Regions from separate parts of the Homo sapiens genome. Here region 2 is linked to region 1. Evidence: fine-mapped expression QTL. A gene starts in region 1. The other region holds a variant in brackets. All regions are shown on one strand. Distances are from middle to middle.

Evidence for each region. PIP is the estimated chance that this variant, and not a neighbour inherited with it, causes the effect.
Region 2: its variant is the best candidate, but not a certain one, in a credible set for the expression of GNB1 in skeletal muscle (FUSION, PIP 0.71).

What each region holds. Positions count from the first base shown.
Region 1 is chr1:1,888,115-1,893,114 of GRCh38, forward strand. GNB1 (G protein subunit beta 1) reads right to left here and starts at 2,973. Exons shown (of 12, transcript NM_002074.5): 1 at 2,706-2,973. It overlaps GNB1-DT (GNB1 divergent transcript), which reads left to right and starts at 3,066. Exons shown (of 2, transcript NR_168264.1): 1 at 3,066-3,269; 2 at 3,786-4,612. RefSeq lists an enhancer at 486-985 and silencers at 2,288-2,477, 3,038-3,227, 3,348-3,447, 3,508-3,757.
Region 2 is chr1:1,931,818-1,937,332 of GRCh38, forward strand. The region is part of intron 25 of CFAP74 (cilia and flagella associated protein 74); the gene reads right to left. Among named protein-coding and RNA genes, the nearest start is that of TMEM52, 15 kb to the left of the region's middle. The variant C/G (reference allele first, on the strand shown) is at 3,083.

The sequences.
Region 1 (5,000 bases):
AGATAACTATGGTTCTGTCATAAATTCAGATTACGCGAGAGAAATAGCTTTTGGCCAGTGGATGTGCTCTTTTGAGAAAGTCAATTCTGAGCTGAAATTTCATGTTGGAACAGTTTCCTCTATAAGACTCATCTTGAAAGGTTCCCGCAGAAGATAAAATGTCATCCTCACACTGGGCCTGGGCAGTGCGCACTTAACTGGGAGGGGGCACAGGCACCTCAGAACTTAACTGGTTTTCCAAACTCTCAATCTCAAAAAAAAAAAAAAAGGCGGGCGGGGGGAGCACTTTCAGTGTTGATGAAACCAAATGCTCGTAACCTGGGACCACCGCCCAACACCTGCAGTCCAGCCTTCCCCCAGGGTTGACAGCATCAGCCTCTGGACCCTGCAGTTGCAGTTCATTTCTGCGCAGCTCTAATCGTTAGAAAGTTCTGCCTTACCGGCTGGGCGCGGTGGCTCACGCTCGTAATCCCAGCACTTTGGCAGATCAAGGCGGGTGAATCACCTGAGGTCTGGAGTTGGAGACCAGCTTGGCCAACATGGTGAAACCCTATCTCTACTAAAAATACAAAAAATTAGCCGGGTGTGGTGGTGGTAGCTGTAATCCCAGCTACTCGGGAGGCTGAGGCAAGAGAATCACTTGAACCCGGGGGCGCGGAGGTTGCAATGAGCCGAGATCGCGCCACTGCACTCCAGCCTGGGCAACAAGAGCGAAACTCCATCTCAAAAAGTAAAGAAAGTTCTGCCTTAGCATAAACCAAGACAAAACCCACCATTCAGTCCTACCCTGGGGAGGCTCTCAGACCTGTCTCCATGTCAGTGGCACCACCTCCATCCCCAGCCTCGAACCCAGCGTTAGCAAAGAAGGAACCGCCTATCCACTTTCTTGATATACATACCTTCCCAAAGAATCCAGAATAGACTATGCATGTCAATAGCATGAAAATTAAAACCTTACTTTCAATAAAGAGCTCCTCCCTCTCCCAAAAGACTATCACTTCAGATTAGAAAATAACTTATGCAAAAACCTTATCAATAACAATGCTTGCTCCAAAGACCTTATTCAGTATGCAGTTCACTGAAACTTTCCACAAAACTAATACGTCCATTTGCTAATCATGAAAAATAATCTTCATATTTTCTTAATTAATAATCTCACCAGCAACTGCTTAATCACCTAATACTATTTGAGACTAATGTTATCAGATAGATAGCAACATGAAAATACAATGAACCAATGCTCCCCAAAAGAAAACCATAGGTTACCATTTCTACACTATTTACCCATAAGTCCAGTACTGTACACCCTAACTGTAAATGTACACCAACTCCCTTTTCAAAACACAAATTTTAACATCGGCGTTTTCCTTCAGGAGCCCATTTCACAATCTTAAGAAAAAGCTTCCATGAAGACAGGCTGGGCACGGTGGCTAAGGCCGCTAATCCCAGCACTTTGGGAGGCTGAGGCGGGAGGATCGCTTGAGCCCCAGAGTTCGAGACCAGCCTGGTTAACAGGATCTCTTTTACAAAGAGATCCCATCTCTTAAAAAAAAAAAAAAAAAAGGCTTCCATGAAGATGAATTAAGCAAACAAAAGCTGATACTGCTTCTGCATGCTAACCATGTAATTTAACGGACACAAGAAATGTTAAAATATCATTTGAATCAACTATCGATTCACAAGAAAAAATATAGCAGGTTCTTAAAAGTCAAAAGCCTCAGCCGACAGCCCTGTGGAATTTTCAACAGATCTCCCCACTCCCCACCCCCACCCCGCTTCCAGCCGAAAAGCCGATCCAGGCAAGAGGAAGACACCCAGCCTTTGTGCTATTTCCTGTCCTCTCCCCCACCTTCGGGCCTTCGGAATATCGCAAACCGGGCCCCGAAACTCGGCGCGGCGGCGGCCGCCCCACAAAGGCAGCGGTGGGAGCGCCATCTTGGCGCGGCCACCGGGCCCATTCATTCGCGGGGCCGGGCCGGGGTCCGCGCAACCCTCGAGTCGACACGCGCGGGGCGCCAGCGCCGGACAGACCCGGGCCTCGGCAGGAGAAGGGCGAGGCCACAGCGCGACTGCCTCAGCGGCTCGACACAGCGAAAAGGGCCGAAACCGTTATTTTCCCATTTCCCGACGCCGCGCCCGGCTTCCGCTTTAAATCCCTACTCCGACCGCGGCGCGCGGCCCGGCTTCCCCATTTCATTGTTCCCCTTCCCCACGCTCGCGCCCCGCGGCCGCCCGGCCCTCAAAGTCACCCCGATAGGCGGCCCGCGCGGGGGCTCCGGCCGCCGACACCGCCCCGCCTGCAGGCCCGCCCGGCCTTTGTTCTCGCGCCGCGGGCCCGAGAGCCACGTCCGGCTCCCCACGCAGGGCCCGGCCCCGCCCGACCCGCGCCCCCGGGGCCCCGGCCGCCGCCACGGGAAGCGCCCGCGGCGCACACAACCCCGCACCCCGGTGCCGAAACTCGGCCCCCAGCCTTGGGCCTGGGACCCCGGCTCCTCTCCCTAGACCCCGCCCTCGACCCCGACCCTGCACCCCGAACCTCGGACCCCAGCCCCCGGCCCCCCCTTCGGACGCCGCCCGCCGCACCCGGGCGGGGCAGGAAGACGCGGCCCCGACCGGCGGGTGGGGTGGGGGCGGGGCGGGCGCCCCCAGGGCGGGCGGGTGGACGAACAGGACCCGGGTCCGGGGCTGGGGGCTGCCGCGCTCACCTCAGCGCCCTCGTCGCGGCCTGACGCGCCCACACCGCCGCCTCGGCCGCCGCTCGGCAGGTCGTCGCGCTCGGGCCGCGCTGCGCGCTCCGCGGGCGCTGCGGGCAGGTGCGCGCCGGCGAGGCTCGGTCCAGTCCCGCCGCGGCGGCTGCTCCACTCCCGGCCCCGCTCCCCACTCGCCGCCCGCTCCCGCTCCCGCCGCCGCCGCCGCCGCCTCCGTCCGCCCCTCAGACGCCTCCAGCCATCGGGATGGGCGCGGCGGGCCCCTGCCCGCAGCCTCGGAAAACCCCACGCGCTCGCGTCACCACGCACGCCGCGCGTCGCGCGCGCTCGCCAGGCCCGACGGGCACGCGCACGCCTGTGCGCGTCCAAACCGCATCGGGCCCCGAGCGCGTGTCCGAGCGGCTTAAAGGGGCCGTGCTGCTGCCTTCGGGTACCGCTGCCCCGGGAGACCCCCGGCGGCCCGGCCCTGCGGGGACCGGGCGGGATGGGGACCGGGGCAGTGGACCCTCGGAGTTGGGATGGGGCGGGGGGAACGCGGGCGTGGAGCCCTCCGGGGACAGGGTAAGGTTGGGTAACCGTGGGCGGGGGCTCCTCCAGGGGCGGGGGTGGGGTAACGGCGGGCGGGGGGCACTCAAGCGACAGGGCAGGGGCGGGAAGGCCGCGGGCGGGGGCGGTCCCTCCGGGGACGGGGCGGGTGGGGGCACCGCGGGCGAGATCGCTTCCTGCAGAGGAGGCAACAGGCCCCGCTAGCAGGTCAGGGTCCCGGGCAGGCGCAGGTGCCCCCCGGCCTCTCAAGCAGGGACTGCGGCGAGCTCAGACGCGGCTGACGGGCAGAGACTCGCGCTTGGGCTCAGTGCGTGTGAAGTGGGCCTCGGGCTGCGGAGGAGGGCAGCACCCCGTGGCTCCTCGCGCTGCTGCGAGCAGGGCCGCCTGGCAGGGGCGGGGGCCGGTGGGCGGGAGTGTCGGGGTAAGGCCGCGGACTCCTCCCATGCCGCTGAGCAGTGGACAGCGGGGACTGGAGACCTCCAGGTGAGGAAGGGGAACGAAGTCAAGAAGGCCACATGTCCTGGCTTCCAGGCTTGGTGTCCTCAGAAGCCTCCAGAACGTCCATGGAACCCGCCCCTGCGCCCACCGCCTCCTGCTGTCTTTCCAGCTGAGTTCCGGCTGCCCCTCACCCTCGGCTTCTTCACTCTGCCTCTCCCCAGCCAGCGCCCTGCTCCCCGGTCCTCAACCACCACCTTCCACCTGCCTGGGCCTTCATCGCCTCCGAGCTCCCCTTCCACACCAAACCTGGCGTCCGTTTTCCTCCAGGCCTGCACCAGCACAGCTGAAGGGGAGAGAGACCCAACCTCATCCACTGGGCCTCCCCTCAACCAGGGCCACAACCTCAAGGGGCCATGCCACCTCCAACACCTATTTCCCACCTTCTACTCTCTCCACACCCTGGGACACCACCCGCCTCTCTCAGCTGACGTTTTCCTTCTTGTTTTGTGTGCATGGTGCTTGTGTGAGAAAGTGGACACACAGTAAGTGCGGCTTCCAGATGCGTCCGCCACCTGCCCTCCGTGCCACGCGCTTCCCCCTACCTAGGGGAGCCTCCACCAGACAGGGAACCCACGCCTTGCCACCCTTCTCTCTCCCTCCCACTTCACCTGTCCGCATCATTTCTGGAGCCCTTTCTTTCTGGCACGAGATGCTCCAGGGCCCTGTTGTATTCTCCCTGCCCCAGCCTGAACCCAGCTATTTCTGCTGCAGCCTGGTTCATTGTGGGAGAATGTCATGCAGAGCCCGGGATCTGGCTCCGGATGTGCTCATTGCTACTGGGGTGTCATTGCAGCTGGCGGAGCAAGGGAACACATCTATGTACATGCCCACACGCATATGTATACACACAGTTTCATGGGCGTGTTTGTCTGTTTTTCTTGGGCACCACGTGTTTACTCTGATGCCAGGCCAACACTACAGGGCTCAACCTGTTCGGAATGAGGGGCCTCCTGCTTTGGGAGTGAGGAACCTGGCTCTGATTATCTCCTGTGTAACCAGTCTCTCATCCTTGCTTCCACCCCACCATATGCTACCCGCTCCTCACCCTGCGTGGCCTCTGACCTCCGCTGGACCACCGAGGCCCCGCCCCCACAGGGGCGCCTGCCTGCCTAGCACAGTTGAGCAAGGAGTGAATTCCCAGTGAAATTTTTTTAATTTTTATTTTATTTATTTATTTTGGGTTTTTTTTTCTTTCTTTCTTTCTTTTTGAGATGGGGGTCTCCCTGTGTTGCCCAGGCTGGTCTCAAA
Region 2 (5,515 bases), 44 kb after region 1:
TTTGGGAGACCGAGGCGGGTGGATTACCTGAGGTCAGGAGTTCAAGACCAGCCTGGCCAACACGGTGAAACCCAATCTCTACTGAAAAAAATGCAAAAGTTAGCTGGGCGTGGTGGCCGGTGCCTGTAATCCCAGCTACTCGGGAGGCTGAGGCAGGAGAATTGCTTGAACCTAGGAGGTAGAGGTTGCGGTGAGCTGAGATCGCCCCACTGCACTCCAGTCTGGGTGACAGAGTGAGACTCTCGCCTCAAAAAAAAAAAAACAAAAAACAAAAAACAAAAAACTTAGAAAAATGTAGGCCGGGCGCGGTGGCTCACGCCTGTAATCCCAGCACTTTGGGAGGCTGAGGCGGGCAGATCACGAGGTCAGGAGATCGAGACCATCCTGGCTAACATGGTGAAACCCCGTCTCTACTAAAAATACACAAAAATTAGCCAGGCGTGGTGGTGGGCACCTGTAGTCCCAGCTATTTGGGAGGCTGAGGCAGGAGAATGGCGTGAACCCAGGAGGCGGAGCTTGCAGTGAGCCGAGATCGCGCCACCGCACTCCAGCCTGGGTGATAGAGCGAGACTCTGTCTCAAAAAAAAAAAAAAAGAAAAGAAAAATGTAGTGATGGGGTGTTGCCCAGGCTGGTCTCAAATTCCTGGACTCAAGTGATCCTCCTGTTTCAGCTTCCCAAAGTGCTGGGATTACAGCCGTGGCGCCCAGCACTCACTAAAATTATTTTTGAGTGGAGATATTATTGATTATTATTAGTAGTCAATTTTTTTCTTTCTTTTTTTCTTTTTTTTTTTGAGACAGAATCTCGCTCTGTTGCCCAGGCTGGAGAGCAGTGGCATGATCTCGGCTCACTGCAACCTCCGCCTCCCGGGTTCAATGATTCTCCTGCCTCAGTCTCCCAAGTAGCTGGGACTACAGGCACCCACCACCACACCTGGCTAATTTTTTGTATTTTTAGTAGCGATGGTGTTTCACTGTGTTAGCCAGGATGGTCTCGATCTCCTGACCTCGTGATCTGCCCGCCTCGGCCTCCTCAAGTGTTGGGATTACAGGTGTGAGACACTGTGCCCGACCTTTTTTTTTTTTGAGATGGGGTCTTGCTCTGTCACCCAGGCTGGAGTGCAGTGGTGCGATCTCGGCTCACTGCAAGCTCCATCTCCAGGGTTCACGCCATTCTCCTGCCTCAGCCTCCCGAGTAGCTGGGACTATAGGCGCCCGCCACCATGCCCGGCTAATTTTTTTGTATTTTTAGTAGAGACGGGGTTTCAACGTGTTAGGCAGGATGGTCTTGATCTCCTGACCTCGTGATCTGCGCACCTCGGCCTCCCAAAGTGCTGGGATTACATGCGGGAGCCACCGTGCCTGACCTTTTTTTTTTTTTTTTTGAAATGGAGTCTCGCTCTGTCGCCCAGGCTTAGTGCAGTGGTGCAATCTCGGCTCACTGCAAGCTCTGCCTCCTGGGTTCAAGCGACTCTCCTGCTTCAGGAGAGTAGCTGGGATTACAGGTGTGCAGCACCTTACCTGGCTAATTTTTGCATTTTTAGTAGAGACAGGGTTTCACCATGTTGGCCAGGCTGGTCTCAAACTCCTGACCTCAGGTGATCCGCCCGCCTCGGCCTCCCAAAGTGCTGGGATTACAGGCGTGAGCCACCGCACCCGGCCCAACTATTCAGGTATTTCTATATTTTTCCTGTGTCCATTGTGTATTTTGAGGAATTTGTCCATTTCCTCAAAATTGTCAGGTTCCCTGGTGTAAAGATGTTCATCATGTTCTCTTCTTATCGCTTTGATATTTGTTAGGGTCTGTGGTGATGTTCCCTTTCGCTCCTGATATTGATGGTTTGTGTTTTCTCTTTTTATCCTCATTGGTCTTGCTGGGGGTAATGAATTTTATTAAATTGTACAAGAAAGACTTTTAGTTTGTTGTTTTTCTCTGTTGAATATTGCATTTCTATTTCGTTGACTTCCACTTTTACCTTTTTTATGTCTTTCTTCTACTCTCTTTGGGTTTAATTTACTGTGTTCTTTTCCTAATTCTTGAAAAGGAAGCTTAGATGGTTGATTTTCACACCCTCTTTTCTAATATCTGCGTTTAGAACTAGAAGCTTCCCACGAGGTGCTGCTCTGACAGCCCGCAGGCCTCAAACCTGATGGGTCCAACATGGAGCCTTTGGTGGTGCCCATGAGGATCAGTCACAAAAATACCCAGGCTGAGGGGAGACAAGCAAAATCCAGACCAGCAGCAGGGGTCTGAGGCCACCGGCATGAGGTCCCGGTCTGCATGGGGCTCTCCAAGTTTCAGCACTCAAAGTCCTGCGGCCTGAGAAGCCCCTCAGTACTGGGTACAGCAGCATGGTGGTCACCCTACATCTGTGCAAGTGTAGAAGTGTGTGTATGTGTGAGTGTTAGGGTATAGGTACACACGTGTGTACGTGTGTTAGGCTGTAGGTACACAGGTGTATACGTGGGTGTTAGGTTGTAGGTACACAGGTGTACACGTGGGTGTTAGGTTGTAGGTACACAGGTGTATACGTGGGTGTTAGGTTGTAGGTACACACATGTGTACGTGTGTGTTAGGTTGTAGGTACACACGTGTGTACATGTGTGTTGTAGGTACACATGTGTGTATTAGGTTGTAGGTACACAGGTGTGTATGTGTGTTAGGTTGTAGGTACACAGGTGTATACGTGGGTGTTAGGTTGTAGGTACACAGGTGTATACGTGGGTGTTAGGTTGTAGGTACACACGTGTGTACGTGGGTGTTAGGTTATAGGTACACGTGTGTATGTGTGTGTGTTAGGTTGTAGGTACACACGTGTGTACGTGGGTGTTAGGCTGTAGGTACACACGTGTGTACGTGGGTGTTAGGCTGTAGGTACACAGGTGTGTACGTGGGTGTTAGGCTGTAGGTACACACGTGTGTACGTGGGTGTTAGGTTGTAGGTACACACGTGTGTACGTGGGTGTTAGGTTGTAGGTACACACGTGTGTATGTGGGTGTTACGTTGTAGGTACGTGTGTACGTGGGTGTTAGGTTGTAGGTACACACGTGTGTGCGTGGGTGTTAGGTTGTAGGTACACA[C/G]GTGTGTACGTGGGTGTTAGGTTGTAGGTACACAGGTGTGTACGTGGGTGTTAGGTTGTAGGTACACGTGTGTACGTGGGTGTTAGGTTGTAGGTACACACGTGTGTATGTGTGTTGCTGTGGGTACACACGTGTGTACGTGGGTGTTAGGCTGTGGGTACACACGTGTGTACGTGGGTGTTAGGTTGTGGGTACACAGGTGTGTACGTGGGTGTTAGGTTGTAGGTACACACGTGTGTACGTGGGTGTTAGGTTGTAGGTACACACGTGTGTACGTGGGTGTTAGGTTGTGGGTACACACGTGTACGTGGGTGTTGTAGGTACACACGTGTGTACGTGGGTGTTAGGCTGTAAGTACACACGTGTGTATGTGGGTGTTAGGTTGTAGGTACACAGGTGTATACGTGGGTGTTAGGTTGTAGGTACACAGGTGTGTACGTGGGTGTTAGGTTGTAGGTACACACGTGTGTATGTGGGTGTTAGGTTATAGGTACACACGTCTGTATGTGTGGGTGTTAGGTTGTAGGTACACACGTGTGTACGTGGGTGTTAGGTTGTAGGTACACAGGTGTGTGCGCGCTAGGTTGTAGGTACACATGTGTGCACGTGGGTTAGGTTGTAGGTACACACGTGTGTACCTGTTAGGTTGTAGGTATACACGTGTGTACGTGTGTGTGTTAGGTTATAGGTACACAGGTATGTAATGAAAGTGTGACCCCTGGCATTCCTGACAGTGACGGGCTCTGGGGAGGGAGGGAGAACAAAGCCAGCTCCGACTTGAGGGAGAATGTTTGTTTCTGTAACAACAAAGAGAAATCAGAGGCAAGTAGGATAAAAGTCTAAGATCTGTATTTTGGGTGGAGGGTACATGATGTTGGCTGAGTTTGTGGGTTATCTGAAAATGGAAGGGAAGAAGAGAGCAGAGGACGCAGAGCTAAGAAAGTTGGGACCTTTTTTTTTTCAGCACTACACACACACACACACACACGAACTGCAGGGGGCTCTGGAGCCATGGAGTTAGAAAAGCTCTCTGAGAGGTCAGGTGTAGTGGCTCATGCCTGTAATCCCAGCACTTTGGGAGGCTGAGGCGGGCAGATCACCTGAGGTCAGGAGTTTGAAACCAGCCTGACCAACGTGGAGAAACCCTGTCACTACTAAAAATACAAAATTATCTGGGCGTGGTGGCGTATGCCTGTAATCCCAGCTACTCAGGAGGCTGAGGCAGGAGAATCGCTTGAACCTGGGAGGCAGAGGTTGTGGTGAGCCGAGATTGCGCCATTGCACTCCAGCCTGGGCAACAAGAGCGATGCTCCGTCTCAAAAAAAAAAAAAAGAAAAAAAGAAAAGAAAAGCTCTCTGATCTGCGGCCGGGTGCGGTGGCTCACATCTGTAATCCCAGCACTTTGGGAGGCTGAGGCGGGTGGACCACAAGGTCAAGAGATCGAGACCATCCTGTCTAACATGGTGAAACCCTGTCTCTACTAAAAATACAAAAATTAGCTGGGCGTGGTGGTGCACACCTATAGTCCCAGCTACTCGGGAGGCTGAGGCAGGAGAATTGCTTGAACCCGGGAAGCGAAGGTTGCAGTGAGCCGAGATCATGCCACTGCACTCCAGCCTGGCGAGAGAGCGAGAGTCCATCTCAAGAAAAATAACAAAAAAAGAAAAAAAAGAAAAAAGAAAAGCTCTCTGAACTGGGCTCCCTTCTGAGAGTGAGGAGGAGAGCCGCGCACAGTGGCTCACGCCTGTCATCCCAGCACGTTGGGAGGCTGAAGCGGGAGGATCGCTTGAGGCTATGAATTCAAGACCAGCTTGGGCAACATAGTGAGACCCCATCTCTACAAAAAATATAAAAGTTAGCCAGGCATGGTGGCGTGTTCCTGTAGTCCTAGCCACACTCAGGAGGCTGAGGTGGGAGGATTGCTTGAACCCGGGAGGTGGAGGCTGCAGTGAGCCGTGATTGCACCCCTTGCATTCAAGCCTGGGTGACAGAGCAAGACCCTGTCTCAAAAAAAAAAAAAAAATTAAAATGTAAAAGTTCAGAAACAAATAATTGCACTTGAAAATGAGCAGTAGAAAATGGTCGAATCACAGGTGACATTGTTATGAGACGAGAGAGAATGAGGAGTGGAATTTGTGTAAACGGCGAAGCAAACTGGGAAGCGTGTTAGGAAGGAATCAAAGGCAGCAGCCTAAGGACTCCACGTGTGCCTCAGAGAGTTCAGAAAGTGATACAGGGTTGGAAACTGCAACATGGCCGTGATTACGGATGGAACGTGCAAAGCACTGGGCACCAAAGGCGGCTGAGGGAGAGGCGACGGGGCGTTAGCGCCCTGGGGAAGGAGCCAGCGTGGCTTTTGAAGTGGTCTGGCTGTCTGACTAGCCCAGAGGTGCTGCTGCCCATGAACCCACAACACAGAACAGAGGAACATGT